Linked DNA regions of Homo sapiens: region 1 is linked to region 2. The links come from fine-mapping of genetic effects on gene expression. A gene starts in region 2. The other region holds a variant in brackets. All regions are shown on one strand. Distances are from middle to middle.

Evidence for each region. PIP is the estimated chance that this variant, and not a neighbour inherited with it, causes the effect.
Region 1: its variant is fine-mapped to the expression of CACNA1A in whole blood (TOPMed, PIP above 0.99).

What each region holds. Positions count from the first base shown.
Region 1 is chr19:13,204,022-13,209,355 of GRCh38, reverse strand. CACNA1A (calcium voltage-gated channel subunit alpha1 A) reads left to right here. Exons shown (of 47, transcript NM_001127222.2): 45 at 1-44; 46 at 347-600; 47 at 1,303-2,914. The coding sequence ends at 2,043. Among named protein-coding and RNA genes, the nearest start is that of IER2, 56 kb to the right of the region's middle. RefSeq lists enhancers at 1-540, 847-1,116 and silencers at 527-716, 797-846. The variant TAAC/C (reference allele first, on the strand shown) is at 2,677.
Region 2 is chr19:13,503,462-13,508,823 of GRCh38, reverse strand. CACNA1A (calcium voltage-gated channel subunit alpha1 A) reads left to right here and starts at 2,345. Exons shown (of 47, transcript NM_001127222.2): 1 at 2,345-2,892. The coding sequence starts at 2,600. RefSeq lists an enhancer at 777-1,303.

The DNA.
Region 1 (5,334 bases), 300 kb after region 2:
CGCCTCTGAGCGCTCCCTGGGCCGCTACACCGATGTGGACACAGGTGGGCAGCCCTGTGGTGCTCAGGGACAAGCAGAACAGAGGAGAGGAGAGGGGAGGAGAAGGCAGGGCGGAGGAGACACTAAGGAAGAAGAAAGGGAGAGGCCTCCATGGAGAGGGGACAGAGGGGGCCAGGCAGCAGCTGCAGGAACCTGGGTACTACCCCCTCCCCCCAACCCACTGACCTGCCTCGGTTCAGGGGATCTCTAGGGCCCCCACACCTTCCAGGTGGCCTCCTGTGTGTGCATCTGCCCCACCTCTCCCTCACGACCACCTGTGTGTCTGTCTGACCCTCACCCGGCCCAGGCTTGGGGACAGACCTGAGCATGACCACCCAATCCGGGGACCTGCCGTCGAAGGAGCGGGACCAGGAGCGGGGCCGGCCCAAGGATCGGAAGCATCGACAGCACCACCACCACCACCACCACCACCACCATCCCCCGCCCCCCGACAAGGACCGCTATGCCCAGGAACGGCCGGACCACGGCCGGGCACGGGCTCGGGACCAGCGCTGGTCCCGCTCGCCCAGCGAGGGCCGAGAGCACATGGCGCACCGGCAGGTGGGTGCGGCTGCAAGTGACCCCAGGCTGGGCTCGGCCGGGAGGCGGGGAGGAGAGAAGGGGATACCCCATCCAACAGCCACTCTAGGCAAAGGTCCCCGGATCCCGGCTGTGACCACCTCCCATCCTGCCCCCAAGCCACCGGGGTGCCCGGCGGCCGGAGCGGACACGGATCCCCACCACACCAGCTGCCTATGCTGTCCCCCCAGCCCCCTTGCCCACCCGCCGCCCCCTCCCCGCCGCCCGCAGCTGCTTGCTCCTCGGTTGTGGATCATATTTGAGTTCTGGGCCGTGCCGCCCGACCTTTCACTTTCCTTTAACCCGGCTTCTGTTTTTGTTTCAATTATGATTTCTGTCCTCTGGACGCCTGTGAGTAATTTTTGAAACTTCTGCTATTTTTAACCCCGAAACTTACAAAACTCCATTTCTCATTTCTCTTTTCACTTTGTTGTGTTGGTTTTCGACTCCTCCCCTCCCTGTCTCACTCCCCCTCCTCCCCTCCCTCCTCCCTGTGGCTGTTGCTTTTTTCCATTCAATGTCCTGTGTCCCCCCTCTCCTCCTCCTCCTCCTCCTCCCCCTCCCCCTCCTCCCTCTCCTCCCGGCCCCTCTCCCTTCGCTCCCCTCTCTTCCTCCCAATCCCGTGTCTCCTTTGATTTTGTTGTATCTTTTTTTTTGATTTCCTTTGTTTCAATTTTCGTGTAGGGCAGTAGTTCCGTAAGTGGAAGCCCAGCCCCCTCAACATCTGGTACCAGCACTCCGCGGCGGGGCCGCCGCCAGCTCCCCCAGACCCCCTCCACCCCCCGGCCACACGTGTCCTATTCCCCTGTGATCCGTAAGGCCGGCGGCTCGGGGCCCCCGCAGCAGCAGCAGCAGCAGCAGCAGCAGCAGCAGCAGCAGGCGGTGGCCAGGCCGGGCCGGGCGGCCACCAGCGGCCCTCGGAGGTACCCAGGCCCCACGGCCGAGCCTCTGGCCGGAGATCGGCCGCCCACGGGGGGCCACAGCAGCGGCCGCTCGCCCAGGATGGAGAGGCGGGTCCCAGGCCCGGCCCGGAGCGAGTCCCCCAGGGCCTGTCGACACGGCGGGGCCCGGTGGCCGGCATCTGGCCCGCACGTGTCCGAGGGGCCCCCGGGTCCCCGGCACCATGGCTACTACCGGGGCTCCGACTACGACGAGGCCGATGGCCCGGGCAGCGGGGGCGGCGAGGAGGCCATGGCCGGGGCCTACGACGCGCCACCCCCCGTACGACACGCGTCCTCGGGCGCCACCGGGCGCTCGCCCAGGACTCCCCGGGCCTCGGGCCCGGCCTGCGCCTCGCCTTCTCGGCACGGCCGGCGACTCCCCAACGGCTACTACCCGGCGCACGGACTGGCCAGGCCCCGCGGGCCGGGCTCCAGGAAGGGCCTGCACGAACCCTACAGCGAGAGTGACGATGATTGGTGCTAAGCCCGGGCGAGGTGGCGCCCGCCCGGCCCCCCACGCACCCCACGCACACACCCCACCCGAGGAGCCGCGCAGAGGCCGCGGGGGCCCAGCACAGAGGGCCCGGGAGAGGGCCAGCCGGGAGACCCCAGACTCTGGAGAGGCCAGGGCTGGGCCACAAGGGTGTCCCGCAGAGACCCTCGGCCAAAAGAGACCCTCCTGGGCAGCCACGGCGCCCCCCAACCAGCCCCGATCCCCCCACCCACGACAGGGGCTCTCGGGTGGGAGGCAGGGAGCAGACAAACCACACAGCCAAGGGATTTGAATTAACTCAGCCATTTTTGGAGAACTTTGGGGAACATGAAAAAAAAAAAAAAAAAAAAAAAAAAAAACATTTTTAAAAGAAAAAACGGGGAGAAAAAAATAGCTTCTATTGATGAGTTTTATCATCTCAATTGAATCTTTCCTTTCCCTGATGAAGACAGCTGGTGGCCGAGTGCGGCAAAGAAGCCAGAAGGAACCAGAATCCCAGTGCCCTACACCCACCACCAGACACACTCACACCCACACACGTTCTCAGACACACACAAGAGTGCTTGCCGGTTATACCAAACCCTACTATTACTGCCTGCAGAAATCAATTTAAAAAAATAATAA[TAAC/C]AATAAACAATTTTAAAAAGGACAAAAAAATTAATGATTGAGAAAAGAGGCATTTTTTTCTGACATTTGGTCCTGCTTGAAACAACAAAAGAAGAAGAAAAACCCACCATCACCACCGATTCCTTTGCTTCTTTTTTCCTTTTTTCCTACCTTGTTTGAAAACCGTGGGCTTGGGACTGTGAATTATTGCATGACATTCAAAAAGAAAAAAAAAATAAAAAAAAGTTGAATCAAAGGGCTTTTGGATAGGAGTGGTCTTTGTCCCTTGGCTAGGTGCTGCCTGGGTGGGTCTCTCTTGGGGAATCATACAAAGAGGCACTTCTTTGTTAGCTCCTAGAAGCACTGTTTGAAAGCGACAAGGAGGCCGGGCATCATGCACGCCTGTAATCCCAGCACTTTGGGAGGCTAAGGCAGATGGATCACTTGAGGTCAGGAGTTCGAGACCAGCCCGACCAACATGGCAAAACCTCATCTCTACTAAAAATACAAAAAAAATTAGCCATGCGTGGTTGCACAAACTGTAATCCCAGCTACTCCGGAGGCTGAGGCATGAGAATCACCTGAGCCTGAGAGGCGGAGGTTAGCAGTGAGCCAAGATCCCACCACTGCACTCCAGCCTGAGTGACGGAATGAGACTCTTGTCTCAAAATAAAAAAAAAAAAGGCAGGGCGCGGTGGCTCACGCCTATAATCCCAGCACTTTGGGAGGCCGAGGTGGGTGGATCACATGAGGTCAGGAGTTCACAACCAGCCTGGCCAACATAGTGAAACGCCGTCTTTACTACAAATACAAAAATTAGCCACGCGTGGTGGTGGGTGCCTGTAATCCCAGCTACTCGGGAAGCTGAGGCAGGAGAATTGCTTGAACCCAGGAGGCGGAGGTTGCAGTGAACCAAGATCGTGCCACTGCACTCCAACCTGGGTGACAGAGCAAGACTCCATCTTAGATAATTAATAATAATAATTTGGTCTCGTGGACACCAACCCCCGCCCCCACGAAGTGTTTCAGCCATCCCCAGAGTCCAATACCCCTTTGAGAGCTTCTGTTCTCACAACAGTACCTGACCCATAGCAAGCTACTATTGACTATCACCATTACTACTGTAGCATTAAGGCAAACATTTTGAACAGGTCTTGTTCCAGACAACAGGCCCTGCTTGAGCTTACCTTGGGTAAGAAATCTGCAGACTCCAGATAGCAAGACAGGTGTAAGTCCTTCTAAAATAATGGTAAGCCAAATGTGGTGGCACACACCTGTAGTCCCAGCTGTTCAGGAGGCTGAGGCAGGAGGATCACTTGAGCCCACGAGGTCAAGACCAGCTATGATCACACCTGTGAATAACCATTGCATTCCAGCCTGGGTGACGTAGAAAGATCCCATCTCTAAAAAAATTAAAAGTAAAAATAAATAAATAAAATAATGGCATCTAGGAAAAGATCAGTCCAACGAGAAGTCAAAGTTTTGAGGTCGAGTGCGGTGTCTGACTCTTGTAATCTCAACACTTTGGGAGAATCACTTGAGGCCAGTAGTTCAAGACCAGCCTGGGCAACATAGCAAGACGCTGTCTCTAAAAAAAAAAGTTTGTTTTTTTTAAGGCTGGGTACAGAGGCTCACGCCTGTAATCCCAGCACTTTGGGAGGCCAAGGTGAGCAGATCACCAAGTCAGGAGTTTGAGACCAGCCTGGCCAACATAGTGAAACCCTGTCTCTACTAAAAATAAAAAAATTAGCCAGGTGTGGTGGTGCATGCCTATATTCCCAGATACTTGGCAGGCTGAGGCAGGAAAATCGCTTGAACCTGGGAGGCAGAGGTTGCAGTGAGCTGAGATTGCGTCACTGCACTGCAGCCTGGGCGACAGAGTGAGACTACGTCTCAAAAAAAAAAAAAAAAAAAAATGGAATGGAAGGGAGGGAGGGAGGGGTTTAACTTTCTAACCAGGCAATCTGGCAACCACCACAGGCTTCTAAACAAGCTGCCCATCCATTGCAGAGCTGGCCTCTGGTCCCCCTCCCATGGTGCTGGGGTTGAGTGTGTCCAGGAGCCACTGGAGTAAGCCAGGGTTTGTGCAATTCCCTCTGCTGTCAATGAGGCTGCAGCCATCTGTCCTCCCAGGAATGAAGTTCACTACCGAAGCCCCCCATGAGCCCTGAACTCAAAGGCCAAGTCTATGCCCGAGTGCCAAGAGGTAGACCCAAGGCCTCCACAGTGCACATCATCAGGCTAGAGTGTTAGTTGCCCAGGAGACACAGGGTGGGAAGATCAGGGGATGAGGAAGAGGGGCGGAGCTTGGCCTAGTCCCCAGTCTCACATACTCTCAGGCCATTGCTTGAGCCTCATCACCTGGAAGGTTGGAAGGGCATGATTGTCATAGAAATGCCCTGAGGTGACCGGGCGCGGTGGCTCAAGCCTGTAATCCCAGCACTTTGGGAGGCCGAGGCGGGCAGATCATGAGGTCAGGAGATCAAGACCATCCTGGCTAACACGGTGAAACCCCGTCTCTGCTAAAAATACAAAAAATCAGCCGGGCATAGTGGCAGGCGCCTGTAGTCCCAGCTACTCAGGAGGCTGAGGCAGGAGAATGGCGTGAACCCGGGAGGCAGAGCCTGCAGTGAGCCGAGATCATGCCACTGCACTCCAGCCTGGGCAACAGAGCGA
Region 2 (5,362 bases):
CAGCCATGTGTGACAACAAACAGGTGAATTTTTCTAAAATTCGAAACAGATTAGGATGTATGAATCTTGTTTTTTTTGTTTGTTTGTTTTTGTTTTGTTTTGTTTTGTTTGACAGAGTCTCACTTTGTTGCCCAGGCTGGAGGGCAGTGGTTTGATCTTGGCTCACTGCAACATCCTGGACTCAAGGGATCTTCCCATCTCAGCCTCCTAAGTAGCTGGGACTAGGTTCACATCACCATGCCTGGTTAATTTTTATTTTAAAAAAGGTTTTTGGAGAGACAGGGTCTTGCTATATTGCCCAGGCTTGTCTCAAACCCCTGGCCTCAAGCAATCCTCATGCTCTGCCTCCCAAAGTGCTGGGATTACAGGCGCAGACACCGTGCCCTGCCAGATGAATCTTAAAGACATAATGTTGAACCGAAGAAACAAGAAACTGTAGAATATATACTATATGATTATTCCATTTATATAAAAGCCCAAAAGAAGCAAAGTAAAATTGTATTGGTTAGGAACGCATAATAAGGTAGTCAAACTTTTTTTAAAAAAGCAAGATATGAATACCATAAAGTCAGGTAGCGATTATTGCTGGAATAAGGGGCTGTGTAAGCGTGTTGGCAAAGGGGGTTCTGCAGAGGTGGTGATGTTCCATTTCTAGCCCTAGACTTGATTTCATGAGTGTTCATTTCAGACCAATTTCTTAACTCCGTACCTTTATGTTTTATGCATTTTTCTTTGTGCTTATTGAATTTCACCACACAAAAAGCAGAATGGGAAGTAATCAAAGTGGTTCTGGAGAGACGTGAGTATCAAGCAAACTATACCACCCAGAACCCCTATCCAGCCAACTAGGACCTGGTTAATTATTTCCTCCTGGGAGTTCAGACTTGTCACCTCTGGGGTCTCCAAGGTAGAATAAACCTTTAATTCCAACTTGCAGGAGTCCTTGTGATTTGAAACGTTCACAGAAGTAACCCCAAACCACTCTCTCCACTTTCAAAAATGGTCTTTTGCTAAACAGAGCAAATTTGTTTAGAGACTGACGAATCGCACCTCTAGACACAAATCCCCTTCTCTTTTCTGTCTTTTAAGTTTTTTTCCTGCCTCCATCCTGCCTTCTCCTTGCAAGATGCTGGGGAGCGTCCGGCTGTCTGCAACCGAAATGGAACGGGGTGGAAAACAGGCTTTCCTCCCAGGGGAGGAGGAAGCACCCCAATTCCCCCCTCCCTGCCTCCCAACCATGCGACGCTCCCCTCTCTCCCCCACAAACTCCGCTGAGCCCGGTACCCCCGCGCCTCCACGAGCCTCCACGATTGGTCGCGGGCCCTCATGTGTCGACACTCTGGGTGGGTCCTTCTACTGTTAAACTCATCAATTGCTCCCCTTTTCCGTTTGCTGGCCAGTGGTTCAGACCTTTGCGCCCATTTTTTTTTCCTCTTTACCTTCTTCTACCCGCAACCCTCCACACCAGTCTTATTTTAGCAAAACCTAGAGAAGGAGGAGGTGGAGGGATTTGGAGGGTGGAGAGGCATTGCCGCATCCAGGGGCAGCTATTGAGTGGCTAAGCGGAGGGCGCATACCTCTCTCTCTCTCTCTTTTCCCCCTGTTGGGAATTTTCAGGATTTCACTGCTGCAATTTAACCCCAAGATGAGGCACCATTGAGCGAAACGCTGTGCGCACATACACACTCACACTTCCTCCGGGAGCAGAAGAGGCAGCCGTTGGTGATTCAGGAAGAAAAAAAATTTTTTTTTTTTTTTTTAAACCTGGACCCTGCGGTGTGAAGACTCCTTAGGAACCCTCTGGAGCGTCTTACTCCCCTTCCCTCCTCTTTCCCTTCCCTTTCATCTTCTTTGTTTTTATTTTATTTTATTTTTGGAGCTACAGATCTTTCAGCATTTTTAAGGTCTAGGAACTCCAGCAAAACAGAAGGGCACTTAATTTTTTTTTTTTTTTTTTTTGCCCTCCCCACCCAGACCTGGGTTTCGTCTTTCTTTATTTTTAAATATATATATATTTTTTTATTTTTTATTTTTTATTTTTTTTTAATGGGCCGAGCGCACTCCTTTTGCAAGATGCCAGCCTGACCCGGACCTCGGAGGAATTTGAAGCTTCCACTGCGTCCCGGGGGGGGCGTCCTTTGCAAACCGTTCGCGTCTTAAAGGGGGTGTGCGTTGGGTGGATTTTTTTTTTTTAACTGTCTCTTTTTTTTTTTTTCCGGAGTGGGTGGACTGGGGATTGCCTGGATTCCTTCCTCGGTTATTTTTTGCCTCGCTTCTCTCTCCCCTCCCCCCTCCTCCCCGGGCCCCCGCGCCCCGCCCCCGCACCCTCCTCCCGCCCCTCCTTCTCCGGGGTCAGCCAGGAAGATGTCCCGAGCTGCTATCCCCGGCTCGGCCCGGGCAGCCGCCTTCTGAGCCCCCGACCCGAGGCGCCGAGCCGCCGCCGCCCGATGGGCTGGGCCGTGGAGCGTCTCCGCAGTCGTAGCTCCAGCCGCCGCGCTCCCAGCCCCGGCAGCCTCAGCATCAGCGGCGGCGGCGGCGGCGGCGGCGTCTTCCGCATCGTTCGCCGCAGCGTAACCCGGAGCCCTTTGCTCTTTGCAGAATGGCCCGCTTCGGAGACGAGATGCCGGCCCGCTACGGGGGAGGAGGCTCCGGGGCAGCCGCCGGGGTGGTCGTGGGCAGCGGAGGCGGGCGAGGAGCCGGGGGCAGCCGGCAGGGCGGGCAGCCCGGGGCGCAAAGGATGTACAAGCAGTCAATGGCGCAGAGAGCGCGGACCATGGCACTCTACAACCCCATCCCCGTCCGACAGAACTGCCTCACGGTTAACCGGTCTCTCTTCCTCTTCAGCGAAGACAACGTGGTGAGAAAATACGCCAAAAAGATCACCGAATGGCCATATCCTTTTGCCCGAACCCCAGCAGCAGCTGCGCCTCCCCCTCCTCCCTCCGCCTCCCCTCTTCCAGGCTGGGAGAGAGACCCGGGGGTTGATGGGAGGTGGGGAGGAGGGGGGTCTTCCAGGGGCTGGGAGAGGGGGCACCGGGAGGAGTGTGAAAGAATCTCTCCACCCCGAGCTGGGTTGAGCTACCCTGGAGGCTTGGGAATGGGTTTGTGGGGGGCTGGGGGGTGGGCAGCGGAGAGTGGATCCTTCCCAAGGACCGACTCTAGAATGAGATCTGGGGCCTGGGGTCGTGCAGGAGCCTTGGTGGGGGCTTTCGAGCCAAGTCCGGAGGGTTTGGAGTTCTACGGAGTGAGCTTGGAGCGGGCTCGGGCCTGGGCGCTTCTGGCCAGGGCAGGGGAACTATGGGGGCCTTGGTTGGGTTTTCTTGGCCGTCGCTCACTGGAGTCCACGCAGGGGAAGCTGGACAGCCTCTCCACTACTGCTTTCCCCAAGGTGGGGGGCCGCCGCACTTTTAGGGCAGGGCGCTTGGGGGCTCCCAGGGCTAAGAGCAAGAGGGAGTCCATGTGGCCTTCACACTGAGAAGCCAGCACTGGCCGAAGTGAGTACCCCAGGGTGGGCCGCTGTTCCTATCTGGAGAGGATAGTGATGGGCTGGGGGGCGCTTATGTTTCCCTCATGTGTGCAGGTCCCATTGCCTTTAACCGCTGATTGGGGAACCTCATCATCTTTGGGGGTGTCGAGAAAGAGATCCCACTTGCTTTATCTGGGCCCCTGGCCTGGGAAGACCTGATCTGGACACTTTCAGTAAGAAAGACAGGGCAACAGCAAATGAGGTGGTGGGTCCATTTTAGAGCACCATGTCCAGCTTTTCCTACCCCGAGTAGCCGAGAGGGAACACCAGGAGAATCAGCACCCATGTGGACATCTTAGGTAGGTAAATGCCTTTTAAATTTTTTTTTTTTTAATCAAAGATCCAGAGGAAAAAGGTGAAGCCCACATTTTCTTCTGTGGAGATGCTATCAAAATGCAGATCTTCTGTGTTTCTTTAAATCCCTGCCTGCTTGAAATAAACCTTGAGGAGGGCTTAACATCTATCGAGATGTAGGCAGGCAAGGGTGGGTAATTAGTCGGGCTTTCTAGCAGTTATCTAAGCATGACCCAGATTCCAGGAGGGGGGACACACCCTGCTGCCCAGGCTGGCTGGCCACTGTGCCATGCCCAGATGTGCCGCTTCTCCGCACAGTTCCAACCAGCTGCCCTCTGTGTAAAAATGAACGGGCTGGATGGGTCCCTGGGGCTCAGCGATGAGTCCCCTATCCCTTTTGTATGTGGTTTTGCAGTTATAGACTAAACGGGGCTGGGCCCTGTGTGGTCTCCGGGGGTTGCTGTTTGAGGAGCATGGCGGGTGGTAGAGGGACTCACTTCAGGGGGGTTCAAAATCGAGCCTGGCGCTTGGATCCTGGGTGCTGGGATTGCAACAGAGGGCACTGAGGTTTTGGAGTGTGTGAGTGGTCTACTTTGAGGGTGGGGAAAATTAAGAAGTTCAGCAGAGGTGCTTTTGAGGGGAGCATACCTCTAACTACGATGCCATCTCCGTTGGTGCCCAAAGCAGGTGCCAGGTCTTTGCTTCCTAAGTTTCAGACTCTTAAAGAGGCTGGTTCTTAAGGTTAGCAATTCCTCACCATCCCAGGCCCATTGAAGTGCTCAGGGGTGGCTTGATTACTCTGCCTATCAACAGAGTGAGGAGTGGGAGTGCCTTGCAGGAGGACAGGGTATTCATGGGTGCACACCCAGTTAGCTCCAGGAGTGAGAGGGCTTTGCTCGGCTGACAGGTTTCCTCATTGAAAATGGCTTTAGATCGCCTTCTGGAGCCTGGATTTGGAGACTTCTAAGAGGAAAGGAAGGAGGTGGGGAGCCCTTCTGCTGTGTCCTTAGCTTACCTCTGTCCAGCCTGAATCCTGCAGATTGGAGGGCTGTTGGGGGAGAGGGGGATTGCAGTGGCCCCTCGGAAGGGGGAATCGTGGGAGAGGGAGGCAGGTGAATTGCGAGTGTTGCTTGCCACTTCATCTATTCTCTGGCCAGCTCGCCCGGGGCTTTCTTGCTCTTATGATGAGTTTGTGCATTATGCTCTCTGCAGACTGTTTTTGTTCTCTTTGACCCGAGGTAACAAACACATTATACAGCCCTACTCTGGAAGGGAAAACTCCCCACCTCACAATCTGTCATCGAGCTGGGTCATCCAGGACTGAGCTTTCTCTGTCCTGGATGGAGCGGAGGGCGGTGGCGGGGTGGGTGGGAGGGTTGGAGATGAGAGGGGATGGACAGAGACCTGGGGAGGGAGGTAGTGAATAAAAGAATTCAGGCCAGTGTAAAGAGAAAGACACGTGGAATGTCAGAGTCACGATACCAGGGCAGAACATTCTACTTTTTAATCTAAATATTTCTGCCATTAAAAAAAAATGTTTCA